3 linked regions of the Homo sapiens genome follow. The protein of the gene in region 3 interacts with the protein of the main gene of each other region in a pairwise test. Each region holds a gene or a part of one and is shown on either strand. Other genes may lie near its edges. The genes, in order: JADE1, NPHP1 and NPHP4.

What was found.
Region 1: the proteins of NPHP4 (region 3) and JADE1 interact in binary tests that used the Homo sapiens proteins (3 or more experiments, as listed by UniProt).
Region 2: the proteins of NPHP4 (region 3) and NPHP1 interact in binary tests that used the Homo sapiens proteins (3 or more experiments, as listed by UniProt).

What each region holds. Positions count from the first base shown.
Region 1 is NC_000004.12:128,861,672-128,865,423, forward strand, and holds part of JADE1 (protein Jade-1), read left to right. Parts: intron 1-32; coding exon 33-554; coding exon of another isoform or gene 555-581; exon of another isoform or gene 582-2,961; intron 2,962-3,752.
Region 2 is NC_000002.12:110,203,461-110,207,212, reverse strand, and holds the start of NPHP1 (nephrocystin-1), read left to right. Parts: upstream 1-2,199; 5' UTR 2,200-2,244; coding exon 2,245-2,313; intron 2,314-3,752. UniProt on the Homo sapiens protein: Together with BCAR1 it may play a role in the control of epithelial cell polarity. Involved in the organization of apical junctions in kidney cells together with NPHP4 and RPGRIP1L/NPHP8. Does not seem to be strictly required for ciliogenesis.
Region 3 is NC_000001.11:5,866,760-5,870,511, reverse strand, and holds part of NPHP4 (nephrocystin-4), read left to right. Parts: intron 1-2,615; coding exon 2,616-2,772; intron 2,773-3,396; coding exon 3,397-3,482; intron 3,483-3,752. UniProt on the Homo sapiens protein: Involved in the organization of apical junctions; the function is proposed to implicate a NPHP1-4-8 module. Does not seem to be strictly required for ciliogenesis. Required for building functional cilia.

The sequences.
Region 1 (3,752 bases), on a different chromosome or scaffold from region 3:
CTATTCTCATGTTCTTTGTGTGTTCTTGACAGTGCTCTGTGAAGAACTGCCGCACAGCCTTCCATGTGACCTGTGCTTTTGACCGGGGCCTGGAGATGAAGACCATCTTAGCAGAGAATGATGAAGTCAAGTTCAAGTCCTATTGCCCAAAGCACAGCTCACATAGGAAACCCGAGGAGAGTCTTGGCAAGGGGGCTGCACAGGAGAATGGGGCCCCTGAGTGTTCCCCCCGGAATCCGCTGGAGCCCTTTGCCAGCCTTGAGCAGAACCGGGAGGAGGCCCACCGGGTGAGTGTCCGTAAGCAGAAGCTGCAGCAGTTGGAGGATGAGTTCTACACCTTCGTCAACCTGCTGGATGTTGCCAGGGCTCTGCGGCTGCCTGAGGAAGTAGTGGATTTCCTGTACCAGTACTGGAAGTTGAAGAGGAAGGTCAACTTCAACAAGCCCCTGATCACCCCAAAGAAAGATGAAGAGGACAATCTAGCCAAGCGGGAGCAGGATGTCTTATTTAGGAGGCTGCAGCTGTTCACGCACCTGCGGCAGGACCTGGAGAGGGTAATGATTGACACTGACACCTTATAGTGACTTAGAGAAGAAGATGCAAAGAGGCGAACGCTCGCCCAGAGCAAGAAATGATAGCCAGTCATATACTCTCAGACCCTTGTACACACCACAGCATGAGGTTGTGTTGGTTAAAAATATTTATGGGCTGGTAAACTCATTGTACATATGTGCAAAACTGCTACTGAGTGGGGAGCTTCTTTGTGGTTTTTTTTTTTTTAAAAACACTTTCCCATTAATCTTTACTGTTTTGTAAGATCAAATGGGGTGTGTCTTCCCCACCCCCATTCCTTCATTCTAGAGCTAGAGTGAATGAGCCCCAAGAAAATGACCCAAGGAGTTGACTCAGGATGGTTTACAGACTGATTTAGAAAACCAGAACGGATTTCATTTCTAATGGAGGGGGCCAGAGATGGGAAAATTTCTTGTTCAGTCCGGGGAAACACACCTAGGTGCTGGTGATGGGCTTATGAAGGAAGCTAAGCACGGCTGCTCACTGGCCCCCACTTTGTTTCTTGGGTAATTCACAGGGGAATTCCCAGTACTGTCATGGAGCAGAGCAGGCAGTGGGTGCTGATGTGTGTGCATGAGCTGTATGTACACATGCATATATCTGTTACAGAAGATACTCCTGGCAGTGAGGTGCTAAGTCATCACTGAGGCTGTGTGTGTGTGTGTGTGTGCGCGTGCCCGTGTCCATCCATGTCTCTGTTGTGTGTCTGTGTGCGGGTATGGGTGGGATTCCTGGTGGACAGGGGTGTCAGATCTGTCTGAGGAGCCCCAGTCATGCTCAGCACGCTACAGATGTGTTGTTTGTCACACTGAGATTGCTGAATGTCGTGGCTGTTGGCTGCCGAGCCTCAGCTGCTGGCATTTCCTTCTGCTGTTTGCTGCTTTTGTGCCTCCCCCACTTTCCATCACCTCTGGAGTCCCGTCTGGACGTCCCTTCCTGCTACAGGAATAATGAGGCGTGGGCTGCCTCCCGCTAGGGCCTCCTGCTCCCTGTAGGTAGTTTCTGGCTGAGGCTTGCTAATTGGGGATGCTTCTTAGAGCATCTTCCACATCAACTCCCCTGGCTGCTGGCTACCGATTAAATTCATTAGTGTGAAAGAGGTGGGAGTGAGGTTTTCTGGCCTGAAGCAGTCTGCACTGAAAGGTACCCAAGTGGCCTGAAACAGTGTAGGGAAAGACCTGGGAAACACTGGACCAAAAAAGCCTGATCTCATGGAGACCTGCATGGCCCTGTTAGAGATGGCGTAGAAGTGAAAGTCTTAAAGGGAGCATTAGAGATCCTTTTAATACACGACTGAGTGCCAGCTTATTTGTGATGCCCCTTCCCAGACCAGGTTAGGATTCCTGGGAAGGCCGCGGATTCCGGCCCTGGAAGAGGCAGGATCCTGGAGCAGTTTTGTGAGGCTTTTGTGCTCCCATACGCCCCCTGGTGGTGAGTGTAAAGAAGACTTTGCCTCTCACAACTACATGTATGTGTGGCATTTTTGTTAGAGATGAGAAAAGGATTGAGAAGGATAAACTGGAATCCTGGTAAGAAGCCTTTATGCCAGCCCGACACCTGCTGTAATTGGGGTGCATGAGCTATGGAGTCAGATAGTTGTTGGGAGGGGGAGGACAAGAAGTCTATTGTTTGGACTGTGTTTGTCTCACAATCACCACAAAATAAAAGTGTAGAAAATGCTTGTGGTGTACTAACTCTTTTCTGTACTTAAGTTACTCAGATTAACATGCACTTCTAATTCTAAACATTTTTTTTGGAGTCATCACTGTCGCTGTTTAAGTAGAACAATGCCAACGATGTATGAGAAACAGGGAATAAATCAGGATTTGTGTGTGTATGTGTGTGGCATTACTTACATTTACTTTATTAAAAAGCCTAAGGAACTTTAAAGAATTTGTATTCAGTTTATTTTTATTTTTTCAAGACAGAGTCTCACTTTGTTGCCCAGGCTGGAGTGCAGTGGCGTGATCTCGGCTCACTGCAGCCTCCGCCTCCCGGGTTCAAGTGATTCTCCTGCCTCGGTCTCATGAGTAGCTGGGATTACAGGCGTGCGCCACCATGCCTGGCTAATTTTTGTATTTTTAGTAGAGACGGTTTCACCATGTTGGTCAGGTTGGTCTTGAACTCCTGACCTCAAGTGATCTACCTGTCTTGGCCTCCCAGAGTGTTGGGATTACGCCACTGTACCCAGCCTTAGACTCAGTTTAAAATGGGCTTATTGTAATGAAAAAAAATACGCTACCCAAAATTTGCCATGATGCCTGTGATGGTGAAGGCATTAAACAATTGAAATCTTTGCCTTGCCCAGAGAGTTGCAGTTATTTGTAATTATAAACAGTAAGTGTATCAGGGCAGGGGTGACAATAAAAAACCAATCATTACTACCAACTTGTTTTCTCAAGTAAGTTAGTTTTCTGTTTAATTCACACAATATCAGTTTATAGCAGATCCTCAAAAATCATTTAATACCTGTGACTACAATCAAGGCATATGATCATTCTCAGACTGACAAATAAGTAGCCATCATTAGAAATGCAGACAACTGAGTAATTATGGTGACTGCTCTTCCTTCAGACACACACCTCGGGGCATTGCATACCTGGGTACCAGTTCTGGATCTGGAAGTTAGGTGACAGGAGTAGATTTCAGGAGGGCTTGGGAGCACACAACTTTAAGAAGACACAGTTGCTGATGTGGTGGGTAGCCATGTCATTCCCAAGGCTGCCACTTCACTCTCATTCCTTTCCCCTAAAAGATGCAGTAAATGTGAGTTCAGCAAATGAGTATTTATTCAGATAAAGACGTGCTACCACTGCACTCTGGCTAGCGTTATGGAAAGTGGCCAAGTCCTGGGGGCAGTCCTGTAGTCACTCAGTGGAATGGTCACCTTTGAAAATCTGGTAGTGGCTACAGTGTCCCCTGAACAAAAGGCACGTTCAACTTTAGTGCTGCAAACAGTTTTGGATTCAAGAAAACACTGAAACCACTTTTAGATGTCTTAGAGCAGTGTATCTCAGGGTGTTGTCCCTGACCCAGAAACTTAGGAATGCAGATTCATGGGCCCCACCTCCAAAGGGTGGTTCTGTTTTGTGGGTACCCCATGTTTCTGTTTGGGAACACTGCTTTAGGGGAAAGGGATGATCAGGTTTAAGGTGGTGTGAGAGTGCACCTGGAGATGG
Region 2 (3,752 bases), on a different chromosome or scaffold from region 3:
TTTTGGCTACCTCACTGCAGATCTCTCTTGTTTTAGGTTATGTTGTTTTTTATAATGGCATCAAGGTATAACTACAGAGGAGCAATGACTAGTATTAATGTGACTGTCCTGAATATTACAGTTATTAGTGAAAAATCATTAGCTGAGTAATCATATCATTTATAGCACACTGAATACCTCAGTGGTACTTCTCAAACTTGAATGTGCACATGAAACACTGGGGTATTGTTAAAATACAGATTCTGATTCTCCTAGGACTGTGGTGGGGCTGAAAATGTGAAAATGTGCATTTCTAACAAGGTCCCAGGTGGTGATGATGCTGATCTAGGAATCGCAAGTAATGAATACTTGTAACCGAAACAATATGATGCAAAAATGTATAAAGTCAAACATCTTCACACCTGAGGTGAATGAGTAATACACTTTTTTTGCACCTTTCCTTATTGTTCATATATTCACACATATTTAGGGGGGGTTATTAGTTTATTTTTACCAACAGAATTAAACTGTATCCATGATGCTATTAACTTTTCCATTTAAAATGTGGAAATCCCTATAAATAAGTAGATGCAGAATAATTTTTTCTAATTTATTTGTAGACTGAGAATTTCATAAGTAATAGCTGTATTTTAGAGCAATTTTTTTCGTTTTGCTCATCTCATCACCTGTAATTATTGATTTAATAATCCACTTAGAAATATTTTATAGCATTTTCTCATTTGTTGTAAAGATTTTTAATGGAAATCCTATGTTTGACTATTTAAGTGAACTAATTATCATAAGCCATAATAGAGAAATTAATTCAAAATAAGACATGAATTACAACAAAACAGACAATACCAAATCTTGCCAAGGACATAAAGAACAAAAACTCATACACTGCTGATAGGGTATAAATTAGTACCATTTTGGGAAACCAGGTAGTAGTATCTACTAAAGCTGACGTATAACATGCCTGTGACTCAGCAGTGTTATGTGTTTGCCAGAAGACTTGCACCAGGACGTTCTTAGCAGCGCTATTTATACTAGCCCTAAGCTGGAAACTGCCCACTTACCCAGCAACAGTAGAATCAGTATGTTAGGGTATATCATATGTGAAATATCAGCAATGAGAATGAACAGACTACAGACACACACAGTATAGATGCATCTCACAAATGTGATATTTAAAGGACAGGAGAAGCCACCACACAGTGCATAATTTCATTGTATAGTACAAAAAAAGGCAACACAAGTTTGTGCTCTTATAAGTTAGGATATTGTTCACCTTTGGTGTGTGGTAGAGAAGTGAGAGGGTTGAGAGGTTGGGGGTAGGCAAGGACTAGAAAGACAGGAAGAGTGTGAGTGGGCAGATAATGTTCTGTTTCATAATCTGGGTGCTGTTATGGGGTGGAGGGTTTTCAGAGCTGCACACAAAGTCTGTAGACTTTTCTCTGTATGTATTATACTTGAAGAAAAAAGTACATAAATAATGGTTCATCCTGGCCTGTGGCTGTTCTGAAGAACATTCATTTGTATTAATGGGGTCCATCATTTGGAAGGTGAGCCCCAAGCATCATCATTCTTATTCAAGTTCAATTTTGGTGTAGTGGAGTTTTGGAATTGGATTCATGGGATGCAGTCCCATATGGGGGAAACATGACAACCTTCCTGAGAGTTGATGTAAACTGGGAATCATAATGAGAACTAATAATTTGCTCATAGATTTGCTGTAGAACAATTACCATCCTTACAGAATTCAGAATTGACAACGTGCAATATTAGAATGAAATGAAACTTCAGTAGCCTAAATGGCAAAGAATTAAAAACTGCCTTTTGAAGTGACAGTATGGAACAGAACCATATATTCCATAGGAAAGCTATCCTTGGAGTTAATGAAAGAGTTTAAGATACTAAAATTGTATCTTAACATTAGCTTACAAAATTGGTATCAGAAAGCAAATGCCATAAAACAGGTATCCCAGCAAGAAGGTGGTGTTATTATTGATGTATTGTGGGGAATGTAGTTTCAGACGCCGGGGGACGTTCCCCTATCCTTAGGAATTGCCGAGGAAAAGTGACTCCCCCGGCTGTGACCTGCCTGGTGGCGTGGGATGACCACCGCAAGAGAACATTTGACCCTTCCCGGGACCGGCCCGGGCGGGGCGGGGCTGGGAGGCGGGCGCACATCGATGGCGTCACCTTCTGGCGCCGCCGGTTGGTTTCCCTGGCAACTGGAGCAATCAGAGCACCGCAGCCAGGGAGATGCTGGCGAGACGACAGCGAGATCCTCTCCAGGCCCTGCGGCGCCGCAATCAGGAGCTGAAGCAACAGGTATGGTCAGGCTGTGCAGAGGGCCCTGGGGCGGGCGACAGGCGGACGCAGCTGCGCGCACTGCGCCTTCCCACCGTGACCCCACCTAATCCTGGGAGCTTGCCCCCAACCTACTTACCTTCCCAGGTTGTAACGCCCCCTTACCCCATAACATTCCAGCACCCAACCCCGATTCAAACCCCTCCTGATCCCAACTCAACCCCCAGCCAAAGGCGAAACCTCCCAAAATTCGTGACCATCAACTAAGCGCCCCCTCCTCCGACCCTCACTCCCACCTAACGTCTCAACCTCCTACCCTAACAACTCACTAACCCACCTTATCTCCCAATCTAAACTTAGTGGTGTAACCATTTCCAACCCAACTCTGAGCCTAGCTCCTCTCCTCCACTTTCCAAGCCCATTTCCTTTCAGCCTTCCTCAAGTGGAGATTATTATTGCCTCCGTGAACTCAAGCGAAATAGGTGTCAAGAAATAGTCTTAATATGCAAGAACATTAAGATCTGATAAATGAGCAAAGGAGGTGAACGAGAGAGGAAATACAAGTAACTCATAAACATACGAGGAATGTTAACTTCAAAGATACTCAAGTAATTGCAAAGCACATAAGGTATCACAAAAATGTTAAAAATCACAACACTCTGTCTTGAGGAAGGTGTGATGAAGCAGGCACATTCACTGCTCCCGTGTATAAGGTGCTTGTACAGCATTTCAGGAAAGCAGCTTGACAAGGTGTAACATATGTGTATGCACCTAGGCTCAAAAATTACATTTCCAGGGATCTGCTATGTGTAATAATTAGAAAGTAGGACAGAGATTGATGTATAAAAGTATTCATCACATTGTTACTTATATAATATACACAGAACAGCATAGAAGGGAACAGGCTAATATGGTATTTCTGTGTGACAGGATGCTGATGATTATTATGATTTTCTTTATTCTTTTTCATATTTATAAAAATTTTTAGGCCAGGTGTGGTGGCTCATGCTAGTAGTACCAGCTACTTGGGAGGCTGAGACAGGAGGATCACCTGAGCCCAGGAGTTCGAGACTAGCCTGGGCAACATAACAAGACTTGGTCTCAAAAAAAAAAAAACTTTTTAAAAATACACTGAGTTCTTATTAAAAATAAGAAAAAAGTAAATAGCAACCAGTGGGTTTATTTTCTGACATTTTAATTTCACTTTAATTTTTTTCATGTGATCTATTACCAAGTATTTTTCCACTGAGTAAAATTATTTTATAATCTGAGGCCGGTAAGAGATTCACTGATGCTCATATTTTATCCATTTTTGTTCTCTTGTTTAAAGTAAAAAGGATTTGGAAGGTAAATATTTAGGTGACTGTGTATTGGAATCACAGTGGTGCAACAAAAGCTAAATACTCTTCTGGTAGAAATAAAAAATAAAACTTGATGGGGCATTGACTTATGCTGAACTT
Region 3 (3,752 bases):
TGATGACCTGGCCCGAGTTGGTTGGTAGTGGGATGCTTGCCTGCCATGGATTTTCCAATTCCATCATTCCTTCTCTGTTGATTACTGGTATTTTAAGTAAGGTAGAGCTGTGCCTTCACCCCATTCACCTATTTACTTTTTATATCCTTATGAACAATGAATTTCTATTTTATTCATTTTGTTACTATCATTATTTATTTTGTTGCTCATATTCGTGCCCTGACTAACCAGGGCAGCCTCTTCAGGCCAGCTCCTGCGTCCTGTTGATTCACCCCTGTCCTCCTTTGAGTCTTTCCTTACTGCCCAGCACAGCAAGACGCCCCAGGCTCAGCTTGCATTTCAGGAGTGTCAGCTATTTAGCTCGGGTTCCTTTGGTTGGAGAATGATATTTAGAAACCAAGATTTGAGCGTTAGATGTACTCAGTACTACTGGGATGTCACTGCTGCTAAGTCCCTCTCAGCAGAGACCTAAGAGGTGTATGCCTGTGGGTGCAGATACATACATACACAATATGTGCATATCATGCATATATGATGTATAGATATGTGCGTGTATGTGCACAGACTACTGTTTCTAGTGTGCTGAAGACCATGAATTTGCAGCAGTTCTTCCAACACCAATTTAACATCACGGGTTTCTTCCTGTTTTTTTCCATGTTTGTAATTCTCATTTCTGCTCATGAGAAACCTAGCTCGCATTTGGCTTACTTATTTGCCTAATTTCCTCTGTATATAACCAATCTGCTGACCACACTGGCCAAATCCCTTTGGCTACAATACCACTGGCCATCTTTATGTACGTGTATATTTCAAAACATCAGTACCAACCAGGGCTAGACACTATCTGTCAGTGCAAGATTTCTGAAGGTGCATTTGTCTTTAGGTCCTTTGTGTCCTGTGATTTACATTTACTTAAAGAATTCTTCTCTGGATAATTACAGCACCAACTTGATAGAAGCTTAGATTTGTTTATTTTTAATACATTAACACTTCTATTTATTTTAGTTTTCAAAATTAAAAACAAGTAAGTCAAAAATCAAACTATAAAGCAAGATATATTTGGAAGGATCTTGTTTCCATTCTTGCCCTGCCCCACTCTCTCCTTCTCAGTGTGTGCAGGTGTGAAGTGTGTGCATGTGTGTGTGCATGCATGTGTGTGTGTGCGTGCATGTGTGGGTGGTGTGTGTGTATGTGCATCCATGTTTGTATTTGTGCATCTGTGTACATGTATGGATGCATGCATGCATGTGGGTGTGCATGTGTGTGTGTGTGTGTGTGCATGTGGGTGGATGTGTATGCATGTGGGTGGATATGTGTGCATGTATGTGTGCATTGTGTGCATGTGGGTGCGTGTGTGTGCATGTGTGGGCGGATATGTGTGCATTGTGCGTGTGTGCATGTGGGTGCATGCATGTGTGCATGTGTGGGTGCATGCATGTGGGCATGCATGTGTGTGCGTGTGGGGGCATGTGTGCATGTATGTGTGTGCATGTGTGTGTGTATGGGTGCGTGTGTGTGCATGTGTGGGTGGATGTGTGTGCATGTGTGTGTGCATTGTGTGTGTGTGCATGTGGGTGCATGCATGTGTGTACATGTGTGGGTGCATGCATGTGGGCGTGCATATGTGTGCGTGTGGGGGCATGTGTGCATGTATGTGTGTGCATGCGTGTGTGGGTGCGTGTGTGCATGTGTGGGTGGATGTGTGTGCATGTATGTGTGCATTGTGTGCGTGTGTGCATGTGGGTGCATGCATATGTGTACATGTGTGGGTGCATGCATGTGGGCGTGCATGTGTGTGTGTGGGGCATGCGTGCATGTATATGTGTACATGCATGTGTGTGCATTTGTGGCTGGATGCGTGTGTGCATGCATGGGTGCATGTTTGCATGTGTGTGCACGTGTGCCTGCATGCATGTGGGTGTGCATGTATGTGTATGTGTATGGGTGCATGTGTGGGTGCATGAGTGCATGCGTGTGTGTGGGTGCGTGTGTGTGAGTATGCATGTCTCTGTGGTTGTGTGTATCTTGAAACAAATATAGCCTTTTTATCAGTTGTCCCAATTAATACCTCTTCAGACAATATGGTTTTTAATGAGTAGCTCTTTTGAAACCAGGAAAGTTTCTATTTCTAACCCCTTTGGTTTAGGCACAGCCTCTTTTTGCCATCTGGAATCAAAGAGCTTGTGCTGACGTGCTTGACCGCGAACTTGGCCCTGCCACCACCCACTCCAGGACCTCCTGGCCTGACTTGCGCACATGCACACAGGGTGTCGGGAGGTGGGATCATGGCAGGAGTAGTTTTGACTTGGGACTGCAGACCTTCTCCACTGGCATTTAAGAAGTGTGCTGTACTCGCGAGGAATAATGGCAGTGTGGCTGCTTGGGTGCCCTGTGTGGGTGCCGGCCCAGACCTTGCTTAGCGGTCCCCTCCTGGTGGAGACCTGCTGCTGCAGACTCAGTCCCTGCCTTTGACGATGCCCGACCTTCCCCGCTCATGGCAGTGGAGGGTGAGGGGGTCTTGGCAACAGTGGAGATACGTGTGCTGTCTAAGGAGGGACAAGAAGCTGCTCACAAGCCTCGTGCCCATCCCAACACTCAGCGTGGCCTCCTCACAGGTCTTGTTCCGAGCGAGTGGTGGCAAGCCCATCGCCGTGCTCTGCCTGACTGTGGAGCTGCAGCCCCACGTGGTGGACCAGGTCTTCCGCTTCTATCACCCGGAGCTCTCCTTCCTGAAGAAGGCCATCCGCCTGCCGCCCTGGCACACATTTCCAGGCAGGTCCTGCACTGACCCTGCAGCCCACATGTTGCAGGCTCACCTGTTGGAAGTAGATACCTCTTGAGGGTGACAGATGGCCTCATGGCTTCATGCCCTGGTGCTGTCAGAGCAGCACGTGGGGCCTGGGGAATTCTCTCTCCTGCCTTTATGGTTTGAAACGGTGTCCCTCTTGCCACCTCTGAGATGACTAGGTGCGCATTTGCCGGCTGAGTCTGCCCTTCTAAAAAATCCCAGCTCCCGCGGCCCAGGTCCAGGTGTGCCTGGAGGAACACCTACCTCCTCACCTGACGGCCCGCGTGTTTCTGGTAGGTGCCCCTTACAGCAGAGTGCAGGCTTCCCTGCTCCAGGGAGCTGTGTTTTCTTTTTTGTGGCCCCCTCGATTATTCCCTGTGGAGATGGCTGCAGCCGAGCCGCAGTGGGCTGGATGGGCGGTGTCCATGCAGGGAACACAGTGCTTGGATGCTGTCCTGGGAAAGGTGGCGGCGTCCGTTTCCCCAGCAGGTGTCTTGCTGAGCACCTGTGACGAGCCTGTCCTGTCCTATAGTGTGTAATGTGTGGGGCCTTCTCCACACAGGCTGGGGCTGTGGAGAAGACTCTTTTTGACATTTCCCCTGCTCCAGGTGCTCCGGTGGGAATGCTTGGTGAGGACCCCCCAGTCCATGTTCGCTGCAGCGACCCGAACGTCATCTGTGAGACCCAGAATGTGGTAGGTTGTGTTGTGGCCCCAGCTCAGGCAGATCCTTCCCAGTGAGTCTGCGCCCCTGTCGGCTTCCCCACGGGTATCCTGGGATCCTCTTCATTTTAGGTTTTCTGCTAAGTGGTTTCTTTCCCAAGGTACTAAAGGGCTATTTTGACATCCTTATGAGAGCTTTATGAGTGTGTTTTTATTTTTTCTACTAGCAGATCAGCTCCTTGATCATCTGAATTTAAATTTTAAAAAGGCACGAAGCAAAGTTAATAAAGTGGATGGTAATTA